Regions from separate parts of the Homo sapiens genome. Here region 2 is linked to region 1. The links come from fine-mapping of genetic effects on gene expression. A gene starts in region 1. The other region holds a variant in brackets. All regions are shown on one strand. Distances are between the middles of the regions.

The links. PIP is the estimated chance that this variant, and not a neighbour inherited with it, causes the effect. A credible set is the group of variants that fine-mapping cannot tell apart.
Region 2: its variant is the best candidate, but not a certain one, in a credible set for the expression of CD300LD in whole blood (TwinsUK, PIP 0.89).

The regions. Positions count from the first base shown.
Region 1 is chr17:74,590,087-74,595,461 of GRCh38, reverse strand. It overlaps CD300LD (CD300 molecule like family member d), which reads left to right and starts at 3,179. Exons shown (of 4, transcript NM_001115152.2): 1 at 3,179-3,299. The coding sequence starts at 3,260. CD300LD-AS1 (CD300LD antisense RNA 1) reads right to left here. Exons shown (of 3, transcript NR_171003.1): 2 at 4,717-4,943; 3 at 1,253-3,478. RefSeq lists an enhancer at 3,146-3,275.
Region 2 is chr17:74,558,543-74,563,917 of GRCh38, reverse strand. CD300H (CD300H molecule (gene/pseudogene)) reads left to right here. Exons shown (of 4, transcript NM_001405511.1): 3 at 1,021-1,084; 4 at 3,094-3,747. The coding sequence ends at 3,217. Among named protein-coding and RNA genes, the nearest start is that of CD300H, 6.3 kb to the left of the region's middle. The variant T/C (reference allele first, on the strand shown) is at 2,203.

The DNA of each region.
Region 1 (5,375 bases):
GTGAGACCCTGTCTCCAAAACAAAACAAAACAAAACAAAACAAAACAAAACAAAACAAAACAAAACAACAACAAACCCACCACCATATTAAAGGAATAGCCAAATTTCCAGCTTCTGTGCCAACAGTGACAGGTTTACTAGAATAGATGAGCATAACCTGGTGTGTTGTGTGTGACTGTTGATCTGGCAAAAGCATCCTTTCCGCCACCATCAGGAAGGAGGAACAGAGGCAGGCGCATTCGCTTGGCATGGACAACAGTATACTTTCACAGTCTTGTTCCAGGACTGTGTTAATTTTCTTCTCCTTGTAGTATTGTTCTAAGAAACCTGAATCGTCCAGCCATTGCCCAGAACATAAAGGTAGTCCCCTGTGTTTATGACATCATGCTAATTGCACCTGATAACAAGAAGAGGCTAGCAACTGGATGTGCTCCAGAGGCTGGGAGATAAACCCTACACTGGTTTAGGGGCCTGCCGTGTCAAAAGATTAGGGGTATGGTGGTCTGGGGCATATTGGGTGTACCCTCAGAGTAAAGGGCAGATAAAATAAATTGCATTTTGCAACTCCTACTTCTAATTGACCCACCTGATAAAACTCAGGGGAGGCTTTGAACTCAGAGCCAGCAGGTGTGATGAAGAGTGTGGGTCAGAAGTGGGAATGGAGACTGGGGACCCAATTGGAGCTTTGTTCATGGAGCAGTTCCACAAACATGTTTTTGTTTTGTTTTGTTTTGTTTTTGAGATGGAGTCTCACTCTGTCACCCCGGCTGAAGTGCAATGGTGTGATCTCGGCTCACTGCAACATCCGCCTCCCAGGTTCAAGTGATTCTCCTGCCTCAGCCTCCCAAGTAGCTGGAATTACAGGCGTGCGCTGCCATGCTGGGCTAATTTTTGTATTTTTTGGTAGAGACGGGGTTTCACTATGTTGGCCAGGCTGGTCTTGAACTCCTGACCTCAGGTGATCCACGCGCCTCGACCCCCCAAAGTGCTGGGATTATAGATGTGAGCCACTGTGCCCGGCCAAACATGTACATCTTTACATATACCCCAAATGCCTGGAGGCAGGCACTGACCCCCAGGCAAAAGAGCAGGAATTCTTTATTTTAATGTAATATCTGGGAAGCCATGGCAGTGAGAATGCTGGAGCTCAACTTCAATCCTCTTCAGTCTAGAGTTTAGAAGACCGCTCTCTGCCCACGCCCCTTAAAGTGTAGCTTGTAAGTCAAGAAAGAATCAAGGGTTCAAACAATTTGGCATGATAAATTGGAACTATTTTCTTTTCTTTCTCTTTCTTTTTATATTTTATTTTATTTCAATAGTTTTTGGGGAGCAGATGGCTTTTGGTTACAAGGATAAGGTCTTTAGCAGTGACTTCTGAGATTTTGGTGCACCCTTCACTGGAGCAGTGTACACTGTACCCAATGTATGGTTTTTTATCCCTCATCCCCTGCATCCTTTCCCCTAAGTCCCCAAAATCCATTGTATCATTCTTGTGCCTTTGTATCTTCATAGCGCAGCTCCCACTTATAAGTGAGGATGTACAATATTTGGTTCTCCATTCCTGAGTTATTTCACTTAGAATAATGATCTCCAACTCCATCCAGGTTGCTGTGAATGCCATTATTTTGTTCCTTTTTGTGGCTGAATAGTATTCCATGGTGTATATGTACACCGCATTGTCTTTATCCACTCATTGCTTGATGGGCATTTAGGCTGGTTCCCTATGTTTTCAATCGCAAATTGTGCTGCTATAAACATGCGTGTACAAGTGTCTTTTTTGGAACTAGTTTTTTTGCCCAGGCTAGAGAGCAGTGGTGCAATCTGGGCTCACTGCAATCTCCACCTCCCAGGTTCAGGCGATTCTCCTGCCTCAGCCTCCTGAGTAGCTGGGATTACAGGCGTGTGCCACCACCTGGCTAATTTTTGTATTTTTAGTAGAGATGGGGTTTCTCCATGTTGGCCAGGCTGGTTTCGAACTCCTGACCTCAGGTGGTCTGTCCGCCTTGGCCTCCCAAAGTGCTGGATTACAGGCATGAGCCACCAGAGCTATTTTATATACTATTTACTCCTACATACTCTGAGGTCTCAGTTAGCTACACTTTATCTTGTTCTCAACTATGATTGGATAACCAAGAATCAGCAGACACTTGAGGAAGGCTCATAATATAGAAGAAGCAGACAACAAAACAAAGATGTGACCACTGAGTGGAGGGATATAGTTCAAGGAACAGAAGAGAGTTTGAAAACATCAGTAATCAAAGAACCAAAAAAACTTTTCGAAATAAAAATACAGTCTCTAAAATCAATATTTGATCCAAGGATTGGAAGGGAAAGTACAAGCATGAAATAAACAATATAAAAAGCTCCCCAAATGTAGAACAAAGCCCACAGATATGGAAAATATAAAACAGGAGAGAAAAAATGAATCGATTCAGGAGGGAAAGGGAGAGAAAGAGGGAAGGGACCATCTAAAGAAAGTGGGGAGAGACCGGGAAAGAAGTCAGTTCGGGCGTCAGCAGAACAAGTAGATTACAACAGCAGCCAGGGGAAAGTGTGCAGGGATAGGGAGGATGAAATCAGGGCAAGAGGAGGCTAACGAGAAAAGGCAATTTCTCCATTCCTGACCTTCCCCACTGAGCCCAGCTTTGGCTTCAGAGTGATTTCAGAGTGGCTTCAGAGTGACTCATGATCCCAGTGGAAGTGTTCCTGGGGGAAGGGGCAGTGGGTCAGACAGCCCAGGGCAGGAAGAGGCAATGAGATGTCTTACAGTGGGGCTGCCTGGAAGAAGCCTGGGGCATGGGCTTTCTCCAGCAAGGCTGGGTGTGAGTCCTGTGCACTGTGGTCTTCCCAAAGTGCTCCTCTCCCTGCACTCCTCATGGCTGGCCTTGTCCGTCCTCTCCTCCAGGCAGTAGATCCCGCAGCTCCTCAATGCTTGGGTTCCTCCTGGCTCCTCCTGCTCCTTGGCTCCTACGTGCACTCCCGTGCAAACCTGACCAGTCCCGGACACATTTTCTTTTCCACATGCACAAAAGTTTGGGCACACCTTGCAACATACACTGTACCTTAGTCTTTTCAAAGAATGACACCTCTTTTCTCCTAATATGTAAAAAGAGAAGTAGCTACAGATGTAACAGGAAGTGAGCAAGAGACTTGAAGGAGATTCGAGTAGGTTTGCGGTGTTGACTTCCGAGCTTGGATTCAAGTCCCTGAAGGGCACCAGACACCTGTGATCACCAAGGAGAGGAGAGGAGACAGGACCATGTGGCTGTCCCCATCTCTGCTGCTTCTCATCCTCCCAGGTGAGTGTGGCTGGAGCTTTAAGGCACTGGAATGACAGCGGCTGGCTTGGAGACAGAGACGCTCTGTTCTCAGGAAGGAGACATGTCAGGGAAAATGACAGCGCCAATTCATCCATCCATGCCCATATTCATTAAATAGCAATCAAGTTTTTGTTATCTGACAGGTTCTGTGTTAGATGCTGCAGAAACAAACACACACAAAACAAAACAAGTATAGCTTCTTGTTGGAACAGTGGTTCTCAACCCTGACTGTTCCATATAAACAGATGAATGAACAGATATCAATGAAGGAAGGAACTAATGAGTGAGTCCATTCTTGAAGAACTTTTTTTTTTTTTTTTTTTTGAGCTGGTGTCTCGCTCTGTCACCCAGGCTGGAGTGCTTCTTTCACTTAGCATGATGTTTCAAGGTTACTTTGTGTTGTAGCACAAATCAAAGCTTCATTCTTTTTCATGGCTGCATAGTATTTCACAGTGGATATACCACATTTGGTTTCTCCAGTCATTTGTCAATGAACCTTAGGGTTGTTTCTACCTTTTAAAAATTGTTAGTAATAATGTTATGAACTTTCATAGCACAGTTTTGTATGGAGATATGTTTTCAGTTCTCTTGGGTATATATCTAGGGGTAAAATGGCTGAATCCTATGTTAATTCTATGTTTAACTTTTTGAGGAAGCATCAAACCTTTTTCCCAAGGATTTATATTTGAGTACAGCTTTGGCTGTCATGTCAACAAATTTTGATACGTAGTGTTTTCATTTCTGTTAAAATGTAACAAATCTATGTGCTTCTCATATTATCTATACTCAGATCAAGCTTTGTAAGAAAATTTTTCCTTCCAATCTCAAATTTATTTTCTTTTAAAATAGATTATTATTATTATTATTATTATTTTTATTTTTTTTTTTTTTGTAGAGATGAGGACTCACTTTCATGCCCAGGCTGGTCTCAAACTCCTGGGCTCAAGTGATCCTCCCACTTTGGCCTCCCAAAGTGCTGGGATTATAGGTGTGAGCCACCATGCCTGGCTTCAAATTTATATTCTGTAAACAATTTTCAGATATATTCTCCTTCCTTTCCTTCCTTCTGAGACAGGGTGTGCTCTGTCACCCAATCTGGAGTACAGTGCTGGGATCAGGGTTCACTGCAGCCTTGACCTCCCAGGCTCAAGCCATCCTCCCACCTCAGCCTCCTGAGTGAGTAGCTGGGACTACAGGCATGTGGTGCGACACCCAGCTAATATTTATTTATTTATTTAGTCTCGCTATGTTGCCAGGGCTGCTCTCAAGCTCCAGGGCTCACGCGATTCTCCTGCCTCAGCCTCCCAAAGTTGTTATATTACAAGTGTGAGCTACCACACCCAGCTCTTATTTCTTATAAATAACTTCCAGATGTAGTTTTTCTTTAAATATTTACCTTAATTGTTGTCTTTCCATTCTGATGTAGAACTTTTTTCAGAGTGAACAAATGAAGCCCCTATACCCATCTTTCCCCAGGAGGTCGTGTGTAGTTTCTTAGTTCCCTTCAGATGCCATAGAAAGCAGATTTGGGCATGGAGTCCAATTTCTGTTCCAGGAATTCCTTGGGTTGTGGAGCTCTGCCTGTTTATGGTGAAATTGTCTTCCGCTCCCACCATGGTGACCCTGGTTTTTCAAGACATTCCAATGAAGTCTAAAGTTTTCATTCATCCAGGGGTAATAATAATAATAATAATAATAACAAACATAATATAGTAACATAGAGGTAGATGCCATTACTATTCCCACTTATAGAAAACGAAGTCACAGTGTATTAGTCCATTTTCACGCTGCTGATAAGGACATACCCGAGACTGAGTAAATTACACAGAAAAAGAGGTTTAATGGACTCACAGTTCCACATGACTGGGGAGGCCTCACAATCATGGTGGAAGGTGAAAGGCATGTATTATATGGCAGCAGGCAAGAGAGAGAATGAGAGCCAAGTGAAAGAGGTTTCCCATTATAAAACCATCAGCTCTCATGAGACTTATTCACTACCACGAGAACAATGTGGGGGAAACCGCCCCATGATTCAATTAACTCCCAACTGGTGCC
Region 2 (5,375 bases), 32 kb after region 1:
TAAGAGCCTCTTTTCTCAGGCATCTGAGGCCATCTCTGCAGAGCAGCCACAGAAATTTTGGCCCAGGAGAGAAGAACTGGGCCTAGTGTGGTGCATCAGAGACTCAGGACAGAGTATGTTGTGTGAATGTGTGTGGGAAATACATGTGTGTTTGAATGAGTGGGACAGTGTAAGTGTGTTTCAGTGTGTGACTGTGAGTTGTGTGCAAACATGTGAGAGTGAGTGCAGGTGTGAAGGTGTGTGTGAAAGCAGGTGTGTGTGAATGTGTGAGAGAGCAGGTGTGTGTGAGTGTGTGTGAGTGTGTGAGGGAGCAAGTGTGTGTGAGTGTGAGTGTGTGAGAGCAGGTGTGAGTGAGTGTGGGAGTGTGTGTGAGAGCAGGTGTGTGAGTGTGTGAGTGTGTGTGAGAGCAAGTGTGTGAGTGTGTGCAAGAGCTGGTGTGTGGGTGTGTGTGAGAGCAGGTGTGTGTGAGTGTGTGTGAGAGCAGGTGTGTGTGTGAGAGCAGGTGTGTGAGTGTGCATGTGAGAGTGTGTGTGAGAGCAGGCGTGTGTGAGTGAGTGGGCGTGTGAGTGTATTTGTGAAGTTGCGTGAGTGCACATGTGAGAGTGTGTGTGCAGGTGTGAGAGTGTGTGTGAGACAGAGAGTGTGTGCTGGAGGGTAGTGGTGGTGTGTGGATACACTGGCAAGGATGGGGGTTTTGGAACCTAAGCCTAACCTTCGGCATGTTGATTTTCAGCGAGATGGGGGACACCAACATGGGAGAAGGTGGTCATCCTCTGGTCTGGGTTTATAAAATGCCCACCCGGCCCCAGAGCAGGGCATCCATTGGGATGGGGTTGGGGGGATGCTCTGTTACTCCAGTCAGGCTTTGGTCTGCCTATTGGAAGACGATGGTCCTAGAACATCTGTCCAGCTGCCTCCTTGAGCGTCCTCTGCTTTATGAAGTCAGAACCATGCAGGTACCAGGTACTCAGCTGGGAAGAGTCAGGCGTAGGGCACTGAACCTCTGTTCTTTATCCTCAGCCTCCAGTACTGAGAACTCTGTGAAGACACCTGCATCTCCCACCAGGCCCAGCCAATGCCAAGGGTAAAATGCACGTGTCCCAGTGTCTTTTGCCATGTGTGCAGCTTCTTTCCTAGGGTGGGGCTTCCTAGACACAGGTTTCCTTGATTATTCACCCACTCAACATTTATTTATTTATTTATTTTTTGAGACAGAGTCTAGCTCTATCGCCGAGGCTGGACTGCAGTGGCACGATCTCGGCTCACTGCAAACTCCGCCTCCCGGGTTCACGCCATTCTCCTGCCTCAGCCTCCTGAGTAGCTGGGACTACAGGCGCCCGCCACTAGGCCCGGCTAATTTTTTTTTTTGTATTTTTAGTAGAGACGGGGGTTTCACCATGTTAGCCAGGATGGTCTCGATCTCCTGACCTCGTGATCTGCCCGCCTCGGCCTCCCAAAGTGCTGGGATTACAGGTGTGAGCCACCGTGCTCGGCCAACAGGTGTTTATTTGTTATGCGCCAGAAACTGATGGAGATTCTAGAGATGCAACAGTGAACAAAGGGGCAAGATTGTGCTCTTGAGGAAGTTGCAAATAGGTAGATTCAGGCAATGGCCAGATGGATAGATAGATAGACAGACAGACAGGTGGACAGACAGATAGATGGATAGATAGATAGATAGATAGATAGATAGATAGGTGGATAGATAGATAAACAGACAGATGATAGATATGATATGAAAGATGATAGAGATGGCTGGCTGGCTGACTGGAAAGACAGATGGAGATGATAGCTGGCAGAGAGAGATATGTAATAGAGACAGAGAGACGATAGATCAAGGAAATATGTCAACGAATGATAATTACTGTGGAGGAAAATAAAGCAGGTGTAAAGAGATAGGGTGCCAGAGTGTGTGGGAAGCTGGTGGGGCATGATTTGGGCTATCAAGGAAATACAAGATGTTCCACAGAAACAAAGAACAAAGGGACTGTCTTAGTTTGGGTTTCCCCCAAATCAGGTCCTGAGACAAGGACTTAGGAGCAATTTGTTTATTGAGAGGTAATCTCAAGAAGTACATTGAGAGAGCAGAAAGTGAGACCAGGAAAGGGGAAGGGCGGTGAAATGTGCTGTAATGAAGGGGTTATCCCCGTAGTAACTGGAGTCACTGGAGATTAACCCCTCTGGGCACCCTATGAGAGACTG[T/C]GTAGAACGTTCCTCAGAACTGGAGACAGAGTCTTCCAGGCAGCAGGCACTCCTGGGGGCATGAATTCTGTGGCCCATCTGGCCTGCTCTGCACAGGAAAATGTGTGCACTCTTGTAGATAACCTCAGGCAGAGATGGGGAGCTTGAGCTGGGAAATCCTTGGTGGGGCCAAGACTGCCTGCAGCTGCCAGGAGCTCAAGTGGGCAAAGGTGATATGGGGCAGGGCGCCAACAGGGTTTGTTACAGGGACTCGTCTTAGAGAGGATCAGGGAGGGCATCAGACAAGCCCTGCAGGTAGAGGGCTGGGAAGGTGGAGAGATGGCACAGCGGCCCATTTTGGGGAGAGAATGCAGCATCTGAGGAGTTGGAATGGGAGCAGTGTAGTGGGACCCACGGAGCGAGACGACTGGCCATGGGCTGAGCTTGGAGAGTTCACTCCTTGGGGTTGAGATTGTTAAGCCGTTTAAGCAAAAGAGCTGTTCTTGTGATCATATTTAATTTGAGTGAAGATGGTTGTAAAGGAGTATTTCATCCTTGAGGTTGTTCCCAGCAAGAGCTGAGTTCCTGCGGGCATCAGTGGCTGAGGGATCTGTTCAGGAAGTTGTTTCTGGGAGCCAGTTCCTGCCTGGGTTAACATATCTCTCTTCTTCTCTATCCCTCACCTCCGGCATCTGTTGGGTCTTGACACTCAAGGTTAATTCTGAGCTGAATGAAGGTCAGGAGCCTGTGACCCTCAGCATGGGGCTGCCTGACCCTGGTACCCACCAGGCTTGATGCTGACATTGGGTTTGAGGGCACAGGACGAGACCTCGAGGGAAGGCGGGGGAGAGGCAGAGCCTGGGACTCCCCGGAGAAGGCAGCTTACTACTAGTCACTCTCTCCGTCTCACAGGTCCCTGCCCAGCAGCACCTGCTTCCTGCTTCTCCCACTCCTGAAGGTGCCTCTGCTCCTGAGCATACTCGGTGCTATCCTCTGGGTGAACAGGCCTTGGAGGACTCCTTGGACAGAGTCATGAACAGGAGAACTTGCAACACCCCATGCCCATTGGAACCCTGTCCAGAGACACAGCCCCTCTGACTGCAAAAAGGACTTCTGACCCTGACCCTCATATTTCTTTCCATCTTATCACCGGATACTTTTTAAAAGTTAAAAAAAAATGTAGGCCGGGTGCGGTGGCTTACACCTGCAATCCCAGCACTTTGGGAGGCCAAGGCAGGTGGATCACTTGAGTCCAGGAGTTTGAGAGCAGCCTGGGCAGCATGGTCAGACCTCATCTCTACAAAAAAATACAAAAATTAGCAGGGTGTGGTGGTGTATGCCTGTGATCCCAGCTACTTGGGAAGCTGAGACAGGAGGATCGCTTGAGCCCCGGAGGTGGAGGTTGCATTGAGTCGAGATTGTGCCACTGCACTCCAGCCTGGGTGACAGAGGGAGACCCTGTCTCAGATAAACAAATAAATAAATAAAATACATCCCATACACAAGAGTATGTATATGAGGTATCTATACAGTTCAAGGACTAAAAATAAACATGTGTACCCACCATTCAGCCTAGGAAATCAATCATTATTAAGATGTTTGAAGCCCCCCATATGCCTCTCCCTGACCTCATAACTGTCTTTCCCCTACTGTCAGGGTTAAATACTATCTGAATATTTCTTGGAGTAATCACTCCCTTGCTTTAGTGTGCTGAGCAAGGACATGGTTGTTTTTGAATCCTGCACAGAGGAAATCATACTGTTGCAAGTTCTTCTGCTCATAAACCATATTGGATTTTTTTCCTTTCCTGACAGTAGATTGTAGGGAACTCCCTACAAACAAACAAAAACAAAACAAAACTGTGATTGGGCCATCAACTGGTTCAGTTTAAGTTGGTTTACTGTTATATGATGGGACCCCTCTGAGTTTTTCAGGGACCAGGTTAATGTATTGAGGACATGTTTAAAAATGTACCTGAGGCTGGGCATGGTGGCTCCCATCTCTAATGCCAACACTTTGGGAGGCTGAGACGGGATGATTGCTTGAACTCAGCCTGGGCAACATAGCAAGACTTCATGCCTACTTAAAAAAAAAATTTAGCCAGGCATGGTGGCACGCACCTGTAGTCCCAGCTTCTCAGAAGGCTGAGGCAGGAGGAATGCTTGAGCCTGGGAGATGGAGGCTGCAGTGAGCTATGATCATACCACTACACTGTGGCCTGGGTGACACAGTGAGACCCTGTCTCAAAACAAAACAAAAAAATGTACCAGGATTTGTTTTAACCAGATATGGTAAGGCATGCAGATACGGAAATGACTGTCATAAAGAAATAAGTTTCTACTCAAAGACCCCTAGAAGCAGGAGGTGCAGTGTGCCATGTAGGGCCACACGGGGAAGCACGAGGGCGGGTGAAGGGGCAGAGAGAGAGAGAGAGGAAATGTATGTGGGAGCCTTTATCATGGTTTTCAGAGGAAGTGATAGGCAAGGTAAGGTAAGCAAACAGCAGGCTTCGGAGTGTGTAGTTTGAATTATTCTGATGGGCTAGGATACAAGAGTGGTCTCTAGTTGTCTGGTACCTGGCCCTGGGGTGATTTAGGGCAGGGGAAAGAAAATATCCCAGACTGCAGGAGCCTGCTGAAAGGAAGCAGGTGGGGGCATGGAATAGGGAATGGTTTGGTTTGCATATCAAAGGCAGACTTGCAGGCCAGTTGTTTACTTTCTCTAGGAATTAGCCCTGGGAGAGAGTTATTTGGATGGATATATTTGCCTATCTGAGTGGCTAAAATAAAAAAATAGTGACTATGTAGCAGGAAGAGCCACAGACAAAACTCCTCAGACACCGAGTTAAAGAAGGAAGGGGTTTATTCGGCTGGGAGCATCGGCAAGACTCCTGTCTCAAGAGCTGAGCTACCTGAGTGAGCAGTTCCTGTCCTGTTAAGGGCTCACAACTCTAAGGGGGTCTGCATGAGAGGGTCCTGACTGATTGAGCAAGCAGGGGGTACGTGACTAGGGGACGCATACACTGTTAATTAGAACGGAACAGAACAGGACAGGGATCTTCACAGTGCTTTTTTATGCAAATAACCGATTAGGTCAGGGGTCTATCTTTACCAGGCCCAGGGTGTGGTGCTGGGCTGTCTGCTTGTGGATTTCATTTCTGCCTTTTAGTTTTTACTTCTTCTTTCTTTGGAGGC